Regions from separate parts of the Homo sapiens genome. Here all the other regions are linked to region 3. Evidence: fine-mapped expression QTL. A gene starts in region 3. Each other region holds a variant in brackets. All regions are shown on one strand. Distances are between the middles of the regions. Region 1 overlaps ARL5A (ARF like GTPase 5A). Region 2 has its middle 39 kb from the start of ARL5A. Region 3 holds the start of NEB (nebulin).

Region 1 (6,999 bases), 89 kb after region 3:
TTACTTCAGCCATGTCCTTAGGACTTGGTTACTATGTCCTAATTCCAAACCTGGTGCTTTTCTAACAGTTCTGTTAGGAAAAACTAGCTAGGCAAAAACTACTGAAAAAAAAAAAAAGACTCTTAGGCCAGGCATGGTGGCTCACACCTGTAATCCCAGCACTTTGGGAGGCCGAGGCAGGTGGATCACAAAGTCAGGAGTTCAAGACCAGCCTGGCCAAGATGGTGAAACCCCATCTCTACTAAAAATACAAAAAAATTAGCCTGGCATGGTGGCGTGAGCCTATAGTCCCAGCTACTTGGGAGGCTAAGGTAGACGAATTGCTTGAACCTGGGAGGCAGAGGTAAAATTCTTTATCATACCTGGCCACTAGCTGAACATGATCACCAAGGTAAAACTGCTGTGAACAAAACCATGTGCTATAACACACAGACAAGTCTAAGATAAAGCAGATGGCAGAAATTACTCATTCCAGGATTTCATCTTATAACACAACTTAGTTGCCTACTGAGGAAAGGAAAAGGTTAACAGTTTCAAGATGCATCATCTTTTACAACCACTGTATGGAATGAACTAGAGTATCAATAAGCTGAAATTAGATAACCTATCCTGTGGTGGATTAGGATTTAAACTGCTTTAAATCTTTCTTTAACAGTGCCTAGAAATAAAGAAGGCACACTGGAGAGAGAAGGTATAGTAGATGATACAGGGTAGGAATCCACATGTCTGGGCCAGGCACAGTGGCTCACGCCTGTAATCCCAGCACTTTGGGGGGCTGAGGCGGGTGGATCACTTGAGGTCAGGAGTCCAAAACCAGCTTGGCCAACATGGCGAAACCCCGTCTCTACTAAAAATTCAAAAATTAGCTGGGTGTGGTGGCACACACTTGTGGTCCCAGCTACTTGGGAGGCTGAGGCATGAGAATCAGTTGAACCTGGGAGTCAGAGGTTGCAGTGAGCCAAGATTGTGTCACTGCACTCCAGCCTGGGCGACAGAGTGAGATCCTGTCTCCAAAAAAAAAAAAAAAAAAAAAAAAACAGAATCCATATGTCTGGCATGGTGGAAAATGTTAATAGAGAAAAGCGTGTCGGAGACAGTGATAAGAAAGAAATGAAGTGGCTAGCCATGGAATTTGGGCCGGGAAAGAAATCCAGTCCTGCCCTACAAGGTTAAGAATGTCCGGAAGTCCTAGCAGGTGAAAGGTTAGGTTATTGTTAGGGTAGAAGGAAAGATGAAAGGTAAAATGGCTATGAACAAGAGGAGAGAAATTAGCCAAGGTCTGAAGCTTTGGAGGACCCATAACCTTCTGTCTGCACCTGAAAGTGAATAACTAAATCCAGGTAAGATCATTAGATAAACATGATGAAAAAGGATGAGTGTGACAAAGCTAGCTAAGCCTTAGCCCAAATCTTCCCCTAACTCTTCTTGACCTACGTACTAAAACTTAGAAAAGCTGCTCTACTCAGTCTCTAGAACATGTCATAAACTTTCCAATCATTTAACTTTGCTCATGCCATTCTCCACACTACAATCTTACTCTTCTGCCTACCTATTTTACAAATTCAATGAATTCCTATATACTTACAAATGCATAAATATGCAACCATGCCCCCAAACTCTTAAGACCTAAGCAGATTTCTAAAGTCAATCAAGGGAAACCAAACTAATATATTTGAACATATCATATTCTTACCAAATGGTTAAAATACTTCAAAAACAAAAAGGAGGAAAGAAACTCCAATCAAACATAAGCAGAACCTGGAAAATATCCAAAAAAACCACATGTAGTCATGTGGTCTGAGATCTCTGGAGGGCCATTCCAATGAAGAATCCATGATCCAGAGGATCTTTACCTCCTTACTCCACCCAAACACCTACAAACTACATTCATTACAAAGTTCTAGTTGCTTCCTCCCAAGACGTAGCTCTATTTGAGTTTTTTTGTATTTTCACAATAAAGCACCAATGACTTTTTTGAGACGCAGTCTCGCTGTTGCCCAGGCTAGAGTGCAGTGGTGTGAGCTTGGCTCAATGAAACCTCTACCTCCCAGGTTCAAACGATTCTCCTCCTGCCTCAGCCTCTCAAGCAGCTGGGACTACAGGCAGGCACTACCATGCCCGGCTTTCTTTTTTTTTTTTTCTTTTTTTTTTTTTTTTTTGAGACGGAGTCTCGCCGTATGCCCAGCTAATTTTTTAATTTATTTATATTTATTTATTTAGAGATGGAGTCTCGCCCTGTCGCCCAGGCTGGAGTGCAATGGCATGATCTCGGCTCACTGCAACCTCTGCCTCCCAGGTTCAAGGGATTCTCCTGCCTCAGCCTCCCGAGTAGCTGGAACTACAGGTGCGCACCACCACGCCCAGCTAATTTTTGTATTTTTAGTAGAGACAGGATTTCACCATATTGGCCAGGCTGGTCTTGAACTCCTGACCTCATGATCCACCTGCCTCGGCCTGCCAAAGTGCTGGGATTACAGGTGTGAACCACCTGCACGTGAATCATCAGAAGTTTACTGTGCCTGGCCTAATTTTTGTATTTTTAGTAGAGATAGGGGTTTTGCCATGTTGGCCAAGCTGGTCTTGAACTCCTGACCTCAGGTGATCCATCTGCCTTGGCCTCCCAAAGTGCTGGGATTACAGGCATGAGCCACTGCGTCCCGGCCACCAATGACCATTTTTAATAGCTTCCTAAATCTAAGACATAGCATGTGGGTCACAATGAGAACTATAAAATTAAGACCAAACTGTGCAATGGGCTCAAAGACAAACGTGTCATCTCAATAATAGGGTCAGATTAGTCACAAAGTTTTTAATAGTAGATCAATTTCCTCTGAACATCCTTACTCTCACCACCACAGCCTGTTCCTTTCATTAGCAAGATGGAAAAGCATCTATACAAAATGTAAATTTGTAGCCAAAAAGTGCTATAATGCACTTCGAAATAAAGACTTCATAGAATCCCAATATGCCTACTACAAGAATGTTATTGTGGACAAATGCAATAAAACTTTCAGCCATTCCAACTCTTTGATGCACAAGAATCATCAGAAGTTTACTGCTTAGTATGATTTTT[CT/C]TTTAGACTATGTCACAGCATTCCTGTATTTACTCAAATAAGCCACAACAACTGCACTGTTCTAATGCTTTGATGGAACTGTGAGTTACCAATTAGGCTTTAACATACCAATCAATACTTTACTGTTTTGTCATGAAAATTGCTTCTTGTTTCCCTTTTCCTTCATTTCCTTTTGACACAGGCAGTCTACCAGTTCCATTCATTGCCAGTTTTTAAAAGTTAATATATATTCCCCCAACTCATCAGTCAATAAATTAAGCATAATAATAATTGTTATTGTAGAGAATTACTATCTCTGTGAATCATACAACATCAGAAAACACAAAAACACCAGGGCAAATAAATGGAGAGTCCTCTTGATTCATCATTTTTACCTCATATCTGAACTATCACTAAGCCCTATTAATTCTATGTCTCTCAGAGCAAAAAATTCCATTTGTCATATTCACTATAGTTCTCTTAGTCCATAGGACAGCTCCTGGAATAAAGCATGAGCTTAATATTTTTCATGAATAAATAAATCAGATCTGGAAAATATAAAGGTTAGGAGAGAGATATCTGCTTAAGTCGTTTTGTATTAAAAGTTCAATTTTTAAAACTTAAAAGTCTTAACAATAAAAAGAAAGTTTGAAAATAAACTTGCTATTACAGTAATGGTAAATTAAGTTTCAGGGGAATAACCAAATTTTCTTTTGCACTATGAGGTTGCTGAAAAAAAAAAGCAATGATTACACATGGCAAAATTAGAGATCCAATCAGGAGGCAGAAATCACACAATAATTTGAACTTGGAAAGTTCAACATCAAAAAAATATTACAGGGGACTGGAGTAATGAGAGATTGGCTAAAAGATTATGGGAATGTCAAATTTAAGAAGCACTCACTATCCCTAGGGTTGAGATAAAGGTCCTCCCCCTCCCTCCAGACTTAAGATGCAGATCTCGTTGGAGGGCACAGATAGTGGCTCACTGAATGGCAGAGAAGTAGCTGTGGTGAGGTGCCAGTGGAACCTGCCCAAAAATCCTCCCTCTTCGGTGCTGAGGAAAACTGTTTATTGAGAGGTATTTCACTGGAGACCTTCCATTATGAAACCAACTAAGACGGGTACTAGGGGAAGCTGTTGGCTGCTGCTGACCACTATGCAGTACAAGAGCCAGGCCTTGGAGACGGTGTTCATGCTACAAGCAGAGCCCGTCAAGAAAGCACACTATAACTAAGTACAAACACCCTTTCCTCCTACAATGCCTCTCCAGTGCAGCCTACTGACAAAACTTAACATTTTGCCCAGTGGCAAAAGAAAAACGTTTAAAGGACCTAGCTCCACTTCCACAGAGCATGCAAAAAGGGTTTACAAATGGTCTCTGACTTGTGATGTTGTAAAAGCAACACACATTCAGTAGAAACCATACTTCGAGTACCCATGCAAAGATTCTGTTTTTCACTTTCAGTACAGTATTCAATAAATTACACGAGATATTCAACCTTTATTATAAAATAGGCTTTGGGTTAGATTTTGCCAACCTGTAAACTAACATAAATGTTCTGAGCACGTATAAAGCAAGCTAGGCTAAAGCCATGGTTTTCAGTAAGTCTGGCATATTAAACTCATTTTTTACTTACTGTATTTTCAATTATCTATCTATCACAAATTATCAACTATCACAAATTGAGGAGCATCTGTATTAGAAGCTAAGACACAGTCTACCCCTTGGCTACTCAGCTTCCATATGTACTCTTCTCTACACATTTAAACTCCCTAATAATAATAATAATAATAATAATAACAACAATAATAAGCCAGAAACAGAGGTGGCTTCCTCAGCATCAGGTTCCTGAAGCACAGGCAGCTTCTCCTGCACCCATTCATACTTATAATTCCTTTTCTAGCAACCAACCAAGAGAGCAATACAAGGCTATTAATGAGGAAATTCCACAACTTCTTTTATAGTTCACATCAGTCAGTTCTTTTTATCTGAGTCCTTCTTATACAAAGTCCTTCTTACACGAAGTTGTGTGCAAATGTGCGTGCGTGCATGTGTGTGTAGAACTAACTCTGGCACTAGATAATCTTGTTAAAATCCAGGTGTGTGTGCGTAGGAGAAATAACTCCGGCACTACGTAATCGTGGTTAAAATCCAGGTCTATCACTTTTACCTATAGTGCTTAAAGCAAGTTACCTGTTTCCGTACCCCTGTAAAATAAGGGGAATAATATCTACCTTGTAGGGTTGTTGTAAAGAGTAAATCAACTAAGTGAATATTAAATCAAACAACCTGTGTGAACCTTGCACAAGTGTTAACCACTATTATTTTACTTGTAGAGACAAAGTGAGTTAATTTCCTGTCTCCCAACACTACATGAAAGCTCCATAAAGGCAGTGGAATTTGTCTGTTTTGTTCCCTTATCCCACCATGTAGAACACTTCCTGGACTAAATAGGTGTTAAAATATTTGTTTATTGAGAACAAGTAAACCACTGATCACAAGCTCTTCTATAAAAAAAAGTTACTAATGGCAACTTTTCGAAGTTCTAAAGACAACTTAGAGATTAGCAACTGAAAAAGTTAATGGGGGGAGGAGGAGGGAGGGAAAAATGATGTCAATCTCTTCTTTAAGAGATTCCTTCAGGGTTTTAACTTGCCTGGCTCTGGCATATACCAGTTGCATGGCCTGGGGAAAAAAAATCATTCCACTTAAGCCTCAGTTTTCCCTTTTCAGGGGAAATAACTACTTCAAAAGATTGTTAAAACATAAAATAAAATAAAATAAAATGATTTAAATGACAGCATCTAGGATAAAGTTTGTACTCTACTGAATCTCAGTATCAACTAAATGTGACCTCTGGTTTTTCTAGTTCGAGCGGTATACAAATAGCTTTCACTGTGCACTCAATCTGAGCTTTAACTGAAAAAGCTGTTCTCGAGGGGTTTCAGAAACAGGAGATACTGCATAGTTTAAGTTTCATCAGATGGCAAATTCTGTAATCTCCCGAAACATACTTTCCAAGAGTTTCTATGAAAAGAAAGTAAGATTGCATTCTGAATCCACTGAAGGTAAAACAAGAGCATCCAACACATATCTAACTTATATATGTCCTATACAGAAAAAAAAAAAAACAACCCTGCTGGGCACCATGGCTCAGGCCTGTAATCCCAGCACTTTGGGAGCCCAAGGCGGGTGGATCACGAAGTCAAGAGATGGTGACCATTCTGGCCAACGTGGTGAAACCCCATCTCTACAAAAAATACAAAAATTAGCTGGGTGTGGTGGCACGCACCTGTAGTCCAGCCACTCGGGAGGCTGAGGCAGGAGAATCGCTTGAACCCAGGAGGCACAGGTTGCAGTGGGCCAAGATCACACCACTGCACTCCAGCCTGGTGACAGAGCAAGACTCCATCTCAAAAAAACAAAAACAAAAACAAAACCCAACAAATATCTGGCATTAGATTAAATGGTGGATATTCGGAAAAGTGACCCTATTGATAAGACAGCCACACTGTTTAGCAGAAAATAAATAATTTATTCACACTTTCACAATATTCATATCTAATTTTCTAGAACTTAACTTCATTAATTTCTCTATTAATTTCCGCCAAACTGCCATAAATGTCCCGTCAAAAATTACCACAAAATACAGGTTATAAAAACACTACTATTAGCAATTTGTAGTGATACCAGAGCACACACCCTTATTATTTACTACTCCAAGGAGCTGTTGGCAAAGTTCTCATTTATTCTTAACTTACAGAAACAAATAATTTTATCATTGACTCAAAATAGAAAGTGGTGATAACTCTTTTTCTGGCAGCACTAGAGCTCAATTCACAGTCTTGCTAAACCTCACAGCAGATGAAACACTAGCTTTGCTAAAAATAATACAAAATGATGGATGTTAAAACTAGAATAGATCTTATCTACTATAAGTAC
Region 2 (6,999 bases), 55 kb after region 3:
GACACAATTTTGGACTCCCTAAGGGGGATGGGGTGAGGAGATACATACAGCATCAAAAGAATCATTTGTAGCTAAAATATTGTCCTCAGAAAACTGGACATGCACTTACTGATTTTTGCCCTGTTGATTGGTCCATTGAACGCTGTATAGTTCACTTGCGTTTCCATTGAGCCAAGGAGGGTAGGAACTCTTGACTGCTTTCAGGCCACTGGGGCTCCTGCATTTATATGCTTGACAGTCTTACACTGCGAGGAAACAGACAACTAACAAATGCCTCTGAAACTCATTTCTTATATGTCTGAAATGAAACGAGCAACGTAGGTTTAAATTCCAGACACCCAAATAATTTTTTTACCCCAAAAGATCTATCTCCAAGGAACTTCTCCAAAAAGTAAAGTAAAATTTTTAACAGTGTCACCTTTTTCTGAATTCCCAATATGGGCTATGCAAGCTGGTATAGCTACACTTTGAAGAAACAAATATATTGAAAAGAAAAAAAAGCACAAGGTTTCCTTTGACTTTAATGAGTAGACTTTCAGCTCATTTCCTTTAAAATGCTGCCCCTGAATTGCAAATTACTTCATGGTCTTTATTTAGTGAGCTCTCTTCCTAGACTGACAGAGCCAGCTGCAGAATTGTACTGTCTATGGAAATAATATCATCAGCACTTTGTCGCTGAATAAGACCACAATCATTACATTTGGCTTCTTTTCACACAGGAGGAACTGAATATATGCTTGTTTACAGCAACAATATTCAGAAAGTTATCACTTTTGTACTCTATCAGTTGGTAACTTAAAATCAAAGGAAAATTTAGCATGAAATACCTGAATCCCTTTTTAAGGTCATTTTAATTTTAGTACATTACTAATACTTAAACTATTAGCTTTTTTTCTAGGATTCAAAGAGCATATTAATTAATTTTGATATTCAGTCAGAGTAGAAAGTATTAAGAAATCAATTTATATTCATTATACATATTTATATTTCTTATCTTTTTCTGTTCCAACTTAGAAATAAAATTTTTGAGAACCACATTCACTGTGAAAAATGTTGTATAAATTTATGTGACATATTTTATTCAAGTGAAGTTCTTATCTAGCAAATATTAGAAAAGTAGCCCATTAAACTATAAATAATTTTAATTTGGCTCTCACCAAGTATGAAAATAAGCAAGTAATTTTATAATTTGAAAAAAGATTTTACATTTTCTTTACAAAATAACCACCACTCTCTCTGACACTATTTAATAAAAGCTTTATTAAAATGAAGCCAAAACATTAACACCATTTATATGTACAAGACCATTAAACATTTTTTCTATCTTTAATAAATGTTCTTCCATTTTTGTCATTTATTACTTTCCTAATTTGAAAAATTGATTAATGTGAAGAAACATTACTAAATTAAACAAATGTAAAGTTTAAATTTAATTATTAAATGGTTGAGTTTAAAGTTGACAGCTAGTTTAAGGTAGAAGACCTTCATAATCCAATTACTTTTACTTGGTTTCAGAACTACCCCTAGGCAAATTCTCCTAAAATAGAAACTACATGCAAGAAAAACACAAGCGATGTTCATCATTTAAGATAAACTTTAAAAGTTAAATTTTTAAAATTAATTTTAATAAAAATTGGTTTGTTACCAGTTAGCTATATAACCTAGAGCCAATCAATCTCTGTGTGTTTTCTCTTTTGTTAAATGTAGAACTTAATTCTTGCTCTATATACCTCTCAGGATTGTGAGAATAAAGATGATACATGTCAAATCAACTTGGAAATTATGGCACTATTGTAGAGGTGGCAAGAAATGGGAAATACTTTAGCAGACATATTGGACTAAGTTCCCAGCCAAGAACCAAATAATTTAAAAAATATTTAAGTGCAAAGAAACCACTAAGGCAACATGTAACCTCCTTTTACTAACAAATAGATGTAGTAATAAGACAAATCCAGGCATATAGTACTTACATCACTTTATGATAATACATGCTAAGGAAAAGTAAAATTGGCCAAACCCTGAAAGTTTCTGTTCTGTATATGTATGGACACCCCCAATGCATGCCATGCTGGTAGTGGGGATATGGAGCTGAATGGGATCGAGTCACTGCCCTCCAGAGGCTTGCAGTCTGGAACGACCTGCTGAAAATAGACAAAAATCCCGCACTATGGCAACAGAGAAAGACGTGCTGAACCGTCTTCCAGATCAGGCCAGGCCTCCCAGGCTGATGGGAGAGCTCAGTCTTCAAGGATATGTCAAAGATTGCTATGTGAGAAAAGGAAGGAAAAGGCATTCTAGGTGGAAGGAACAGGCTAGATCAAGGCATGAGACAGAAAGAATAGATGTTTAGAATACATTTAATTATAATAACCAGTATTCAATATTTTAGAAATTGTTAAAAAGACAATCAGCAAAACCACTATTTATTGAGGTTCCAAAATATATTGGGCTTGTGTTAAGGGCTCTGATACATACTTAGTTAAAAATATAATGAAACTAAGGTCCAGGGATGTTACTTAGCTTGCTGATAATGTTGTGGGCATATTAATAGGGTGTCTTTTTTTCACAGTATCAGGCTGATGATTTTTCTTGGCACCATATCCTACTTACAGTTAGCTTTCTAAGAAAAAGATCAGGTAAAGTTAAAACATTTTTAAAGTTCTCCAGTTTGATTCTTATCTGTAGGCACATCTTTGTAATAAACGTAAAATAGCAGCATTCTTTACATGGCATAAGGTAGTTACAATTCCTTCCAAAGGAATAAGAACTAGGAAATTCCTGGGAATAGTCATTATAGGTCAATTTGACTCAACCAATTGTCTACTGTTTCTGAAGAACTTTTAAAAAGCTTTATTGCTAATCATTCTTCCCTGCCACTTGCCTTCTTACCTCAAATGTAAAAACTGAGTAACAAAAACTTTAAGGCAAAGCTCTTATTTTACAATATCATTTCAGGATTAAAAACAACAACATGAATTGAGTCACAACTATGTGCTTGGATCATAGAACTAGTTTACTTTCTTAATTGAATTAACATAACAGCATCATTTTAAGATTTGTGTAACTAGAGCAGGGTATGGTGGTGCAGGCCTGTAGTCCCAGCTATTCAGGAGGCTCAGGCAGGAGGATCACTTGTACTGAGGAGTTGAAGTCCAGCCTGGGCAACACAGTCAGACCTTGTCTCTAAAACTAAAATAAATAAATAAATAAATAAATAAATAAATAAATAAATAAATAAATATGTGTGTACCTGAGGCAAAGAACAGGCAGAAATACTGATGATCATTCTGCCAAGTTGGCAAAGAAGCCTTGCCCTTTTTTTTTCTATTAGCAGTACTTAATGTTCACTACATTCATTCATTCACGAGTTATTTTTTATATAAAGGTCATTAATGACATTAAATTGCCTATTATAATGGCCCAATGTAAACATCAGCAGTTTGTCAGCAAGAAAAGCTTCATTATTCACAAATGCTGGTCAAGTCTTGCTACTAATTCATTTGATGACAGAATGACCAACTGCCCCTTAAGCTGACAACCCTTCCCCTCCACTGCTATCACTGCAAAAACACATTGTCCCCTATCTGAACATGATAACCGAGTGTCGTTTCTGGGTAACACTGAGGTGATTCAAAACACACTTCATAATTAACAATGTGAATTATTTCACATCATCCCATCTCTTTA[T/A]CATACCGTCATTCTTCCAGGCAGCAAGCTCCAACTGCTCTGTGCCTCCTTCCTCTCTTTCTCCTCATATCTAGTTACCACAACTCCTCTTCTGCCCAGACCAGTCCTGCAGGAATGTTTTTCTTCTTCTTATCCCCCTTTTTCATGAATTAAAAAAAAAATTATTTTTAGTTGACAAATTGTATGTATTTATGGGGTATAATGTGGTATTTTGATATGCTGGAGTAATTATTAATAGTGCCTTCTTTGACTCTTAAGCATGTCCCATTTTGGCTGATAACTTATATGGTTACTTACCCATATTCCATTAGATATCAAGTTTATCTTTGCCTTCTCTGCCTTGTTTCAGGCCTTCATTTTCTTTCACCAGGGATAATATAATAATCTATTTATGATGTTATCCCCAGTTTCCTCTCTTTTCAACCCATCTTTTAGAAGTTGCCACAATAACTTTCATTTTAAGAGGCTGGCCTTAAACTGTTATTCCCAGGCCAGGTGCAGTGACTCATGCCTGTAATCCCAGCACTTTCGGAGGCCCAGGTGAGAGGATCATTTGAGTCTAAGAGTTTGAGACCATCTTGGGCAACATAGCAAGACCACATCTCTAAGAAAAAAAAAAAAAAATTAGCCAGGCGTGGTGGTATGTGCCTGTAGTCCCAGCTACTTGGGAGGCTGAGGTGTGATGATCACTTGAGCCCAGAAGGTCAAGGATGCAAAGAGCCATGATCATGCTACTGCACTCCAGCCTGGGAAACACAGCAAGATCCTGTCTTAAAACAAAATAAAACAAGCAAACCTTCAGTGGTTCCCCAATGCCTACTACTACTGCCACCTCACTTTAGTCTATAAGGACTGTTGACTCTTGCTATCACTGTCTCTCTTCATATAGCCTCCAGTACACCTGATGTGAACTATTCACTTTACATTTGGAGTGGGTTTTTGTTTGTCTGTTTGTTTGTTTGTTTGAGATAGTCTCATGGTCCCCTGGGCTGGAATGCAGTGTTGCATGTTGCAATCATGGCTCACTGTAGCCTCAACCTCCCAAGATCAAGTGATCTTCCCACCTCAGCCTCCCAAGTAGCTGAGACAACAGGCACATGCCACCATGCCTATTTTTTTTGTTTGTTTTTTGTAGAGATGCGGGTCTCACTATGTTGCCCAGGCTGGTCTCAAACTCTTGGGCTCAGGTTCTCCTCCTGCCTGGGCCTCCCAAAGTGCTGACATTACAGGTGTGAGCCACCACACCCAGCCCCTTTGGGTGTTTTTAAATATAACTTTGGCATTTATAACAAATGCAACCACATGTTAGATCTTATTAGAAGTACTAAACTTTTAGGACACCAGATCAGGTTGAAGAGTATTTTGAGTACAGCAGTTAAACCATTTAAAAAGACCATTACCATTTACAACTAATTCTCTGCGGGCATTTGATGTCATTACTACACAGCCAAAAAGAACCTATCCCACAAACCAACCAACCACCAAACCATCTAAAGCAAAACACATAATATCAAGGCATAAGCTAAAAAGGTAATCTCTTTACATCTGCAATAATTGGTAAGAACTCTGTCAAAATCAGACTTGCACTGAAGGTTGCAAATGGCATTGCATCAGTGAATTTTTACCAATCACCTTTTGTTGTTGTTGTTGTTGTTGTTTTTTAATTTCAACTTTTATTTTAATTTCAGGGGATTTATGTGCAGGTTGTTACCTGAGTGTATTGCATGAAGCTGAGGTATGGGGCATAAATGATCCCATCACCGAGGCACTGAGCATAGTACAATAAAGCTTTTCAACCTTTGGCCCCCTTTCCCTTACCCCTCTAATAGTCCCCAATATTGCTGCCATCTTTATGTTCATGAGTACCCAATGTTTAGCTCCCACTTATAAGTCAGAACATGTGGTATTTGGTTTTCTGTTTCTATGTTAATTCGCTTAGGATAACAACCTCCAGCCACATTGCAAAGGATATTATTTTGTTCCTTTTTATGGCTGCATAGTATTCCACTTACCAATCATCTTGATCTCTGAACTGAGAGCTTCATCCCATTTACTTAATACAACTTTTGTATTCCTTCCCATCCCTATTAGATGATTCTTTAAAGACAAAATGATTCAGCAATGTTTTCTGATTATTGGTATAATGCGCTCAATATAGAATATCTGTAACATACAAAATCGTAATCAGAAAAATACTGGTTGTAATGTTGCCGCCTACAACTCCTAATGTTATAATACATTTCTTTCTTCTTTTTTTTTTTTTTAAAGACATAGTCTCACTCTGACACCTAGGCTGGAGTGCAAACACAGCTCGCCGCAGCCTTGAACTCCTGGGCTCAAGTGATGCTCTCACCTTAGCCTCCTGAGCAGCTGGGACTATAAGGTACCTGTCACCATGTCTGGCTAGATTTAAAAAACATTTTGTAGAGACAGGGTTTCGCCATGTTGCCCAGGCTGATCTTGAGTTCCTGGGCTCAAGCAGTCCTCCGGCCTCAGCTTCCCAAGGTACTTTCCTATCTTTTTTCTATGTTTTTTGTTCTCGCATAATTCAGATGATAGATGTAAAAGTTTATATTATAAAAAAATTGTTTATCCTGTTTAACATGTCACAACCATTAATAATTTCCTCATATTATTTAAATCTGTTAAAATATTTAATGGTAGCATGTTTTATCATATAACTCAACTGTTTTTAATATGATGGACATAAATGGATGGACACTGGGTGACTTTTCTGAATGAACACAGGACTTCCTACACAGGACTGGCATTTAGGGCTGACAGCATAGATGGACACATTGGTGGGAGAGCATCCTAGAAGCAGAAGACTGGCCGTCTATGGTAGATAATAAAAGTTGTTCATTATTCTTCCCCAACATTAAAAAAAGGTCAGCTGAGAGATTGTATACATCTTTTACCTTCTACCCTTCCCAAAAGGAGTCAATGATTAGCATAGGCTGAATACATTATAAGCCGGTTAACAAGTAAACTGCACAATAAAGGCTAAAGATCACAGAAACCTTGTGGGCGGAGGGAAGCTTTGCACTGCCCACTGCTGGAAGGACTGGTGAACATGTAGCATGACCTGAAGATGCCCAGAGTGGTGGTGGCCTGTGACAGTAGTCAACAGGTTTACAAATCTTAATATAAAGTGTCTTAATATAGAGATGGCCGTGTATATGCTGAAGAATTGACCAGGATGTGGGGAATCTTTTCGGAAGACAATTAGGCAACAGGCTACCAAAGCCTTTTAAAAGGCCATATGCTTTGACACAGCGATTGGACTTGTGAGAATTCATTCTATGAAAAATA
Region 3 (6,999 bases):
TTCCTCATTCTTGTGCTTTCTTTACTCTTGAGCTATTGTTTTAATTTAAAATCTAATTCTGCCTGTATGTCGTTACACATAGCAACAAAAATCACAAGCACTGACAGGACAGAGATTTGCTTTTTTACAGTTGTGACTTTTCAGCACATGAGAAATATCATTTGGACACTAGAAAATATTGTTTGATGCTGACGCCACATAGAGTCATTCCTCCAGTCACACAAAACATCAGTGGCTTCAGAAGAAATATTAAAATAAAATGGAAGATTCACAACTATTTTGGATTTTCTCAGCATCCAAGTTTAAAAGCAGCTCCTTGGAAACCATTCAATTTTACCTTTGCTGGGCTCTCACCATTGGTAAATCCATCTTAGAAATACGCTTATAAAAGAGGCAACATTATTTAAATGGTTGGCATTAACTTGTATGCCAAATCTCACTCTTTTTTTAGAGCTGTGCCACTAATTAGATAGTGCATCCTTGCTTCTCTCTCTTTCTTTTCAAGTTTAAGTTAGAGTAGAGAGAACAGTAAAACTTTATTTCAGATGTCCAAGATCCCAAGGAGATATATTTTTAAAGCCAGTTCTTCTCTGTTTTCTGCATATTTTTAAAGCTAGTTCCTCTCTGTTTTCTAAAATCTTCCCTGGCCATTTTTTCGAATGCACCACCCTCTTATGCTCATGATCTTTTTTGAGGTCAAAGAGATCTCAGTTCAATACTTTCTGGCAGGCAGTCTATTCGTTTATCACCTGCTGGTCAGACACAGATGCTGTAATGGGAACAAAATGGTAGGGATGGGATGTCTAAAAATAGCCACCTCCTTTTTTATGACATCTAGTTGAATCAATCAAGTCTAGCACTAAGGACAATTTCCAGTGGCAAAGGTACACAATTATTTTAAGAAAGACAAGGGATATTTAAGTTGGAGAGTAAAAACTGTTACTGGCATTATTATCATAGGGAAGACAATTTAATTTATAATTGTATTAGTGTTTGACAGTGATATTTCTGACCCTTAGGTACATAAGTAAAATGCACACTAGTGATAATATCAGCATGAAAGATGTGGTATCAGCATTTAAGCCAGAGAGGCTGAGTGTTACATTGTACGAGATTCATTCTATTTTTTCCCTCATATCCTTCAGTAATAAAAGCTATTTTATTTGTAGAATAAATAAAATTTTCTTCATCTAAATATAGACTGGTCACTAAAATAATTTTCCAAAGAGAAATTTTGGCACTGCCACCTAAAATTTGGTTCTGGGTAGCTCTTACAGTTAATTTCAGTCTTATTAAAAAGCACAGATTTTCAAAACTGCCTCCAAGTGCCTTAGGCATTTGGAGATTTTCATGTGTTTAGATCATCATCATTAATTGGTAATTATTAAGCACATTCAGATTCATGGCACTGTATTTATGTGCATTATAGTTCCAAGCCTTTAGATTTTATTTCTAGAATGTGAAGCTAAAGGCAAGAGCCGGTGAGGAAAAACCGTAAGATGATAAAAACAAAAGGATGTAAAATAAATATAAAATAAATGATTAACAGCTTTGTAAAATGTGTTAGATGTCCACTAATAATTGGAAGGAAAATTTTCAAGATACCCACTATAGTCTTTGTTCTTATTCAAAATTCAAAAGCAAAAGCTAGTCTTGTTGACTTGGGTAAATATAATGAAGTTGGTAGGAAGGTGTGGCTCCAACAATCGCTGTGACCTTCATGCCTTTATTTATATTTGCTTGTATGTGTGTGTCTGTGCACATGTGTATGTATTATGTATAAAGTCTCACATCTGCATATAATTTCATACATATGATTATTCTGAATATCTAACCCATGTTACCCTATAGATGATTAGCTAGTTGAAGCAAAGAATAAGGAGTAGATCTTTTCTTCTATTGCTATACAGATACTAAGAGACAGAGTTCCATTTTCAGAACTTTCTCTTCGTCTCTGTCCCTTTGAACATCGGGGTTGGGAAGTGGGGAAGAAAGCAGTTTTAGAAGACGAATTAAAACCTGCCTTTACTCCAACTTGGTTTTTTGAGAGCTTAAAGAAAAGCAAAAGTGGGAAACAGTGATATTTCCTGTCAATTCTAAATCCCACATAATTATAGTGAAACTGAACATAAAATATTCCTTTCTTATGCTTTAAATGATGACTCTTTGTGAAGTTATAATAGACAATGTATTTTTCGAATGATTAATTCACCTACACAGCTTTGATTGTCACTACATAAAATAGTTTGCTGTCAGTGTTTTTTTTTTAAATCTTACCTCCACCACCTCCTCATAGTCTTCGTCATCTGCCATTTTTCCAGAGTAGTAGTGGCACCTACAAACTTTTCATATTCCATACAAATGAAAACATATTAGAGTCTATTCCCAGCACAGAAATTATCTTATGACATTATAAAAATAGAATTTGAAGCTAAACTATTGTACAAATTCATATATTGTTGCAGGCTAAAGGAGAGAAGACATTTAAAATACAAGTATAAACAGCAGAAGCTTCAAATTTCTTTCTCTTTATTCCTTCAGTGTTGGGAATTGCTACTTCTACATAATCAGTTTAGTTAAAATTGTAAAACGAAATTGAGGTAAGGAAGTGAGAGAGTTTGGACTCAGGGAACAGAGAATTTAAACTTCCAAACACTTAGAGAAAAGACATTTTCCAGCAAAAATTTTAGTGAAAGGTCAGCTTGGGTTTCAGAAGAAGCTGAAATTTATCCCCCAGCACCAAAATTCTAAGAGGGCTGACTTAGTTTTCCATACTGCCCTGATCCACTGTTTGCAATATATCTTAGGCTTCAAATTGGAACCCATAAAAATACATCTGTCAATAAATTTTAAAAGAAAAAAAGAAACCTCAAGGCAATGGGGTTATTTTCTTCCCGAACACCATTGGCTTATACAGACTTTTTCTTTCGTTTCTGTAGCTCTCGTTCAAACCTGAAAAATAACAAAGTTGTAAAGCATTGATTGAGGTACATATAGGATTGTCAGTCCTTAGCCTAAGCTTCTAATGCAGAAAACAGCGAAAGGATCTCTCAAGGCCTCTACAGTTTGACGCCAGAGAGTAAGACTCTTGATATGAAGTGGATGATGAGTTGGAACAGCTGTCCCTTCATCCAAAGATGTTTGCCATGTAAACCAATACCCTGCAGTGGCTGGTTTTGTTAAGCTAGCGAAACTGCCACTCCTCAGGCAAATGAAGCCCAGTAGAACAGGATAAATATAGGAACGTAGAGCAGCGTATCTTCTTTTTCACACTAATATATTTAGAGAAAAATATCAAAGGCAAAAAAATGTTAGACAAGAGAGCCAATTCAGTCAAGCAATAAATTGGTTAGCAAAGGACTTGACTCTAATCACACACGGTACATAGCAGATATTAGTAGGGCCTTAGTAGGGCAATGGGGTTAAACTCTCCTAGCCATATTTCTACCACTAATTTCCTCAGTTATGGCCCAAACCTTTGAAAAATACTTCGAGGGAAGTTGTGGAGCATCTCCTGAAAGAGTATTACAGAAAAAGTCATAAACTGGCCTTACCTTCAATCTACCAAATAAATTTCCTCAGCAGCAAAGCCTCTCCCAACTCTCCCCTCCTGAGAACCCCAGGCAAAAGCCAGCGTGATGCCTGGGCTCCGAATTATCATGTGGCAAGAGCAACCAATCAGATCTTGAGTTGCTCAAATTTCAGAAGCTAAATTTACCAAGTGATCTTCTGAAAACCACCTGTTCATCAATTCCACTAAAGGATAAAGGGTAACAAATTGCTTGCTTAGAACAATTCAAATGGAATCAAATTTTACCTAACTTCCAGCCTGTGCAGTTCAATTTTAGGTTGAATTTCCCATTTACTGAGGCCCCATTCAATGTCATATTCATGCAAAAGAATTTAGTAGAAAATAAGCATGACTTTGAGAGGCTTTAACCCTTCCGTGACTGCTTTCTTCATGTCATTTGTCCAGTCATGGTGGTAAATGTACTCACTCTGGTAAGGTTCACCAGGTGAGCTACAGGTAAGTTACTGGTGCTAGTGTGAAAGAAACTGAGGAATAAGACCCAGTAAACATCAAGTTGACAAAAGCAATTTTTAAAAATGTGATGAGTGAAGTTAAAGGTGAAAATATTTGACAATGGCACTAAATAAGATATCCACAGGGTGTAATTAGAAAGATTAGACCCCATCATTTTTCTGTTACTAAACCAAGAGGGTATACCAAAATCCTATTTAGCACCTTCTCCCTCCTTAGATAAGGCAAGCTGCTAGGAATACAGAACCTCTCTCATATGTAACCGAGTTAGTGATTTTTCTATTAACTCAGATGACTCCTGGCTCCCAGAAGCAACGTGTGAATGCGGACACAAACAGGCTCAATTTCTGAACAGCAAGAGCAGATAACATGGAAATCAGTAACTTATCAGGAGAAAATAATGCCCTATTTGGCAAATCCGAACGTAAGACATTTCCTTCATAAAAATTATCTAACCATTTTCTTAAAACTTGCCTGATGTCTTTCTTGCACTTTCTTTGCTCCTGAAGTATTTTTTCTAATTTAAAATCTAATTCTATCTGTCTGTCTGTCTGTCCTTACACACAGCGACAGAAATCACAGGCTCTTATGTGACAGAGAACTGCTCTTTCTCTGGGTTGCTCCTGTATTCAGGCAAAACCCTGTGAGTCACCTATATCTTGATATGGATTTGAGATTAAACATATTGTAATATTTTTTCTTTTTTAAGTTAAACATTAGAAAGTAATCTCGCTGGGCGTGGTGGCTCACGCCTGTAATCCCAACACTTTGGGAGGCCGAGGCGGGCAGATTGTCTGAGGCCAGGAGTTTGAGAAAGTAATCTCATATTTCAAATACATGTACCTTTTCCCCCTCCATGATTCACATGGTAGTAAATAAAATCTAACAGAATTTTATCATCTTAACTGATTATACCTGTTCATCTTGTATGTTCTCACAGGTCTTATGACCAAAGGATATTTATGTAATATGAGATCACTCACTTGGTAGCTGCAAACTAGAATTGTGACTTACTAGTCATTACATGCTTTAAAATGTGTTGTTGAATTAAAAAATAATACAGGCCCATACTTTAAAAACATAGAGTACAAAATTATATAAAGTAAAAAATGAGCATTGACCTTCTTAGTCATTTTTAAGTTTCAGATATTTTCAATATAGATATTGACATAAATCGATATACTTAATATGCAATAGACATTTTTATGAAACATCACATAAACATATCCTACTCTAATTTCCACAAATAATTCTATTGATTGGATAGAGTATAATAGTTTAATCATTATTAATGGACATCTAGGTTGTTTCGAGGTTTTTGCTATTACAAAATAAAGCAAAACAATGCGAAACAAAACACACAGTAAGCATCCCTGTACATTACCTTTGTATACTTATATGAAATGTATCTGTAAGGTAAATTTCTAGAAATAGAAATACTGAGGCAGAAGATATATGCACATTTTGAAAATTGATAGATATTGTCAAGTTGCCAGTCAAAATCCTTACACTATTTTATGTTTCACTAACAGAGAATGAGGGTTCCTATGTATACACATCTCAATATCCTTAGGGATTATTAGACTGAAAAATCATTACTATCTGAGCTGAATGTGTCCCCCCAAAATTTATATGTTGAAGTCCTACCCCCCGATGTGTGGAAAGTGATTGGGTCATAAGGGTGGAGCCCTCACGAATGGGATTAGTACACTTATGAAAGAGGCCCCAGAGAGCTGCCTGGCACTCTCTCTGCCATGTGAAGTTACAGGGGGATGATGGCCAGCCACAACCTGAAAGAAAGTCCTCACTAGAACCCAACCATGCCAGCACCCTGATCTTAGACATCCAGCCTCTAGAACTATGAGAAGTAAATTTCTGTTTATAAGCCATCCAGCTTATATTATTTCTGTTATAGCAGACCAAATGGACTAAGACACTCTTTATACATTACTTTTGAAACCACTATGATAGTAAATAGAAGTGCTACAGATGAGCAGAACCTCAAACTCCATTCATAATGAAGTGTGCATCTAAAAAGTTAGGGTGGGGGGTGGGGCAAGAGTGAGTTCACATGAAATTACCCTGGCTTAGATCTCTTGGGATAAATTCCTCCTAAAAGAAAGCCCCAAAGCCCCTGCTAAACTGGCCTGCTGCAGGTTGCCCTAATAATTTGCAAAGCCATCAGAAGTAAGAGACTCACAGGAGAGCTGGTTATATTCCTACCATGGTTACACAGGGGTGAGTGAACCAGCAAGCAGCTTATATTTACCTCCTAGTCACACTAGAGAAAAACACTGCCACCTCCTTACTAAATTCTGCAGATTCTAATCTGGAATGATGCCCTCTAGAGATGAAAGAACAGCTTTATTTTCCTGGCCTATCTATGACCTCTTCTGTGGAACGACAGTACATTGGCACCCTGATTTATTGGTAGGTTCTTATTATATGCCTTGCACATGGTAAGTGTTCAGTAAATGTTAGCTATTATTATTTTTACTATTATCATTTTTTACATTATATTGGAAGCTTCACGCTTTATTCTGTATTTAACTGAAATACCAAATATCTTGAAGCTTCTAAAATCAGACAATAGTTAGTCTAAGAATTTATGAGTACGCAGGCATCTGACTAGAAGCTTGTACAACTGGCTACAAACCAAAGCAGGGCAGTTAGGTGCCAATATCGGAACTTCAGATAAGGCTTCCCTAAATATGAAAATATAGAAGTGTCATGCCTGGAGACCAAAAAAGACATGATAAGGGGAGATGGGATTGTAACAGTTTTTGTTGTCATTACTTTGATTTCAGTATTTTGATCAACCTCTATATGAACATAGCTTAAGAATCAAGCTTAAGTTTCATAAGACTTGCTACTAAATCAACATTTCCTGTTTCCTCTATTCCTTTTTCCCCTCCCTGGAGACATCACTTGGACTCATTTAGCTGAATCTTTTGTTA

The links.
Region 1: its variant is fine-mapped to the expression of NEB in whole blood (TOPMed, PIP 0.96).
Region 2: its variant is fine-mapped to the expression of NEB in whole blood (TOPMed, PIP above 0.99). The same link has a PIP of 0.9 or more in tibial nerve.

Annotation. Positions count from the first base shown.
Region 1 is chr2:151,819,649-151,826,647 of GRCh38, forward strand. The region is part of intron 1 of ARL5A (ARF like GTPase 5A); the gene reads right to left. Among named protein-coding and RNA genes, the nearest start is that of ARL5A, 5.3 kb to the right of the region's middle. RefSeq lists an enhancer at 4,175-4,234. The variant CT/C (reference allele first, on the strand shown) is at 3,074.
Region 2 is chr2:151,786,059-151,793,057 of GRCh38, forward strand. No RefSeq gene overlaps it. Among named protein-coding and RNA genes, the nearest start is that of ARL5A, 39 kb to the right of the region's middle. The variant T/A (reference allele first, on the strand shown) is at 3,688.
Region 3 is chr2:151,730,844-151,737,842 of GRCh38, forward strand. It overlaps NEB (nebulin), which reads right to left and starts at 3,633. Exons shown (of 182, transcript NM_001164508.2): 1 at 3,555-3,633; 2 at 2,869-2,952; 3 at 2,278-2,342. The coding sequence starts at 2,313.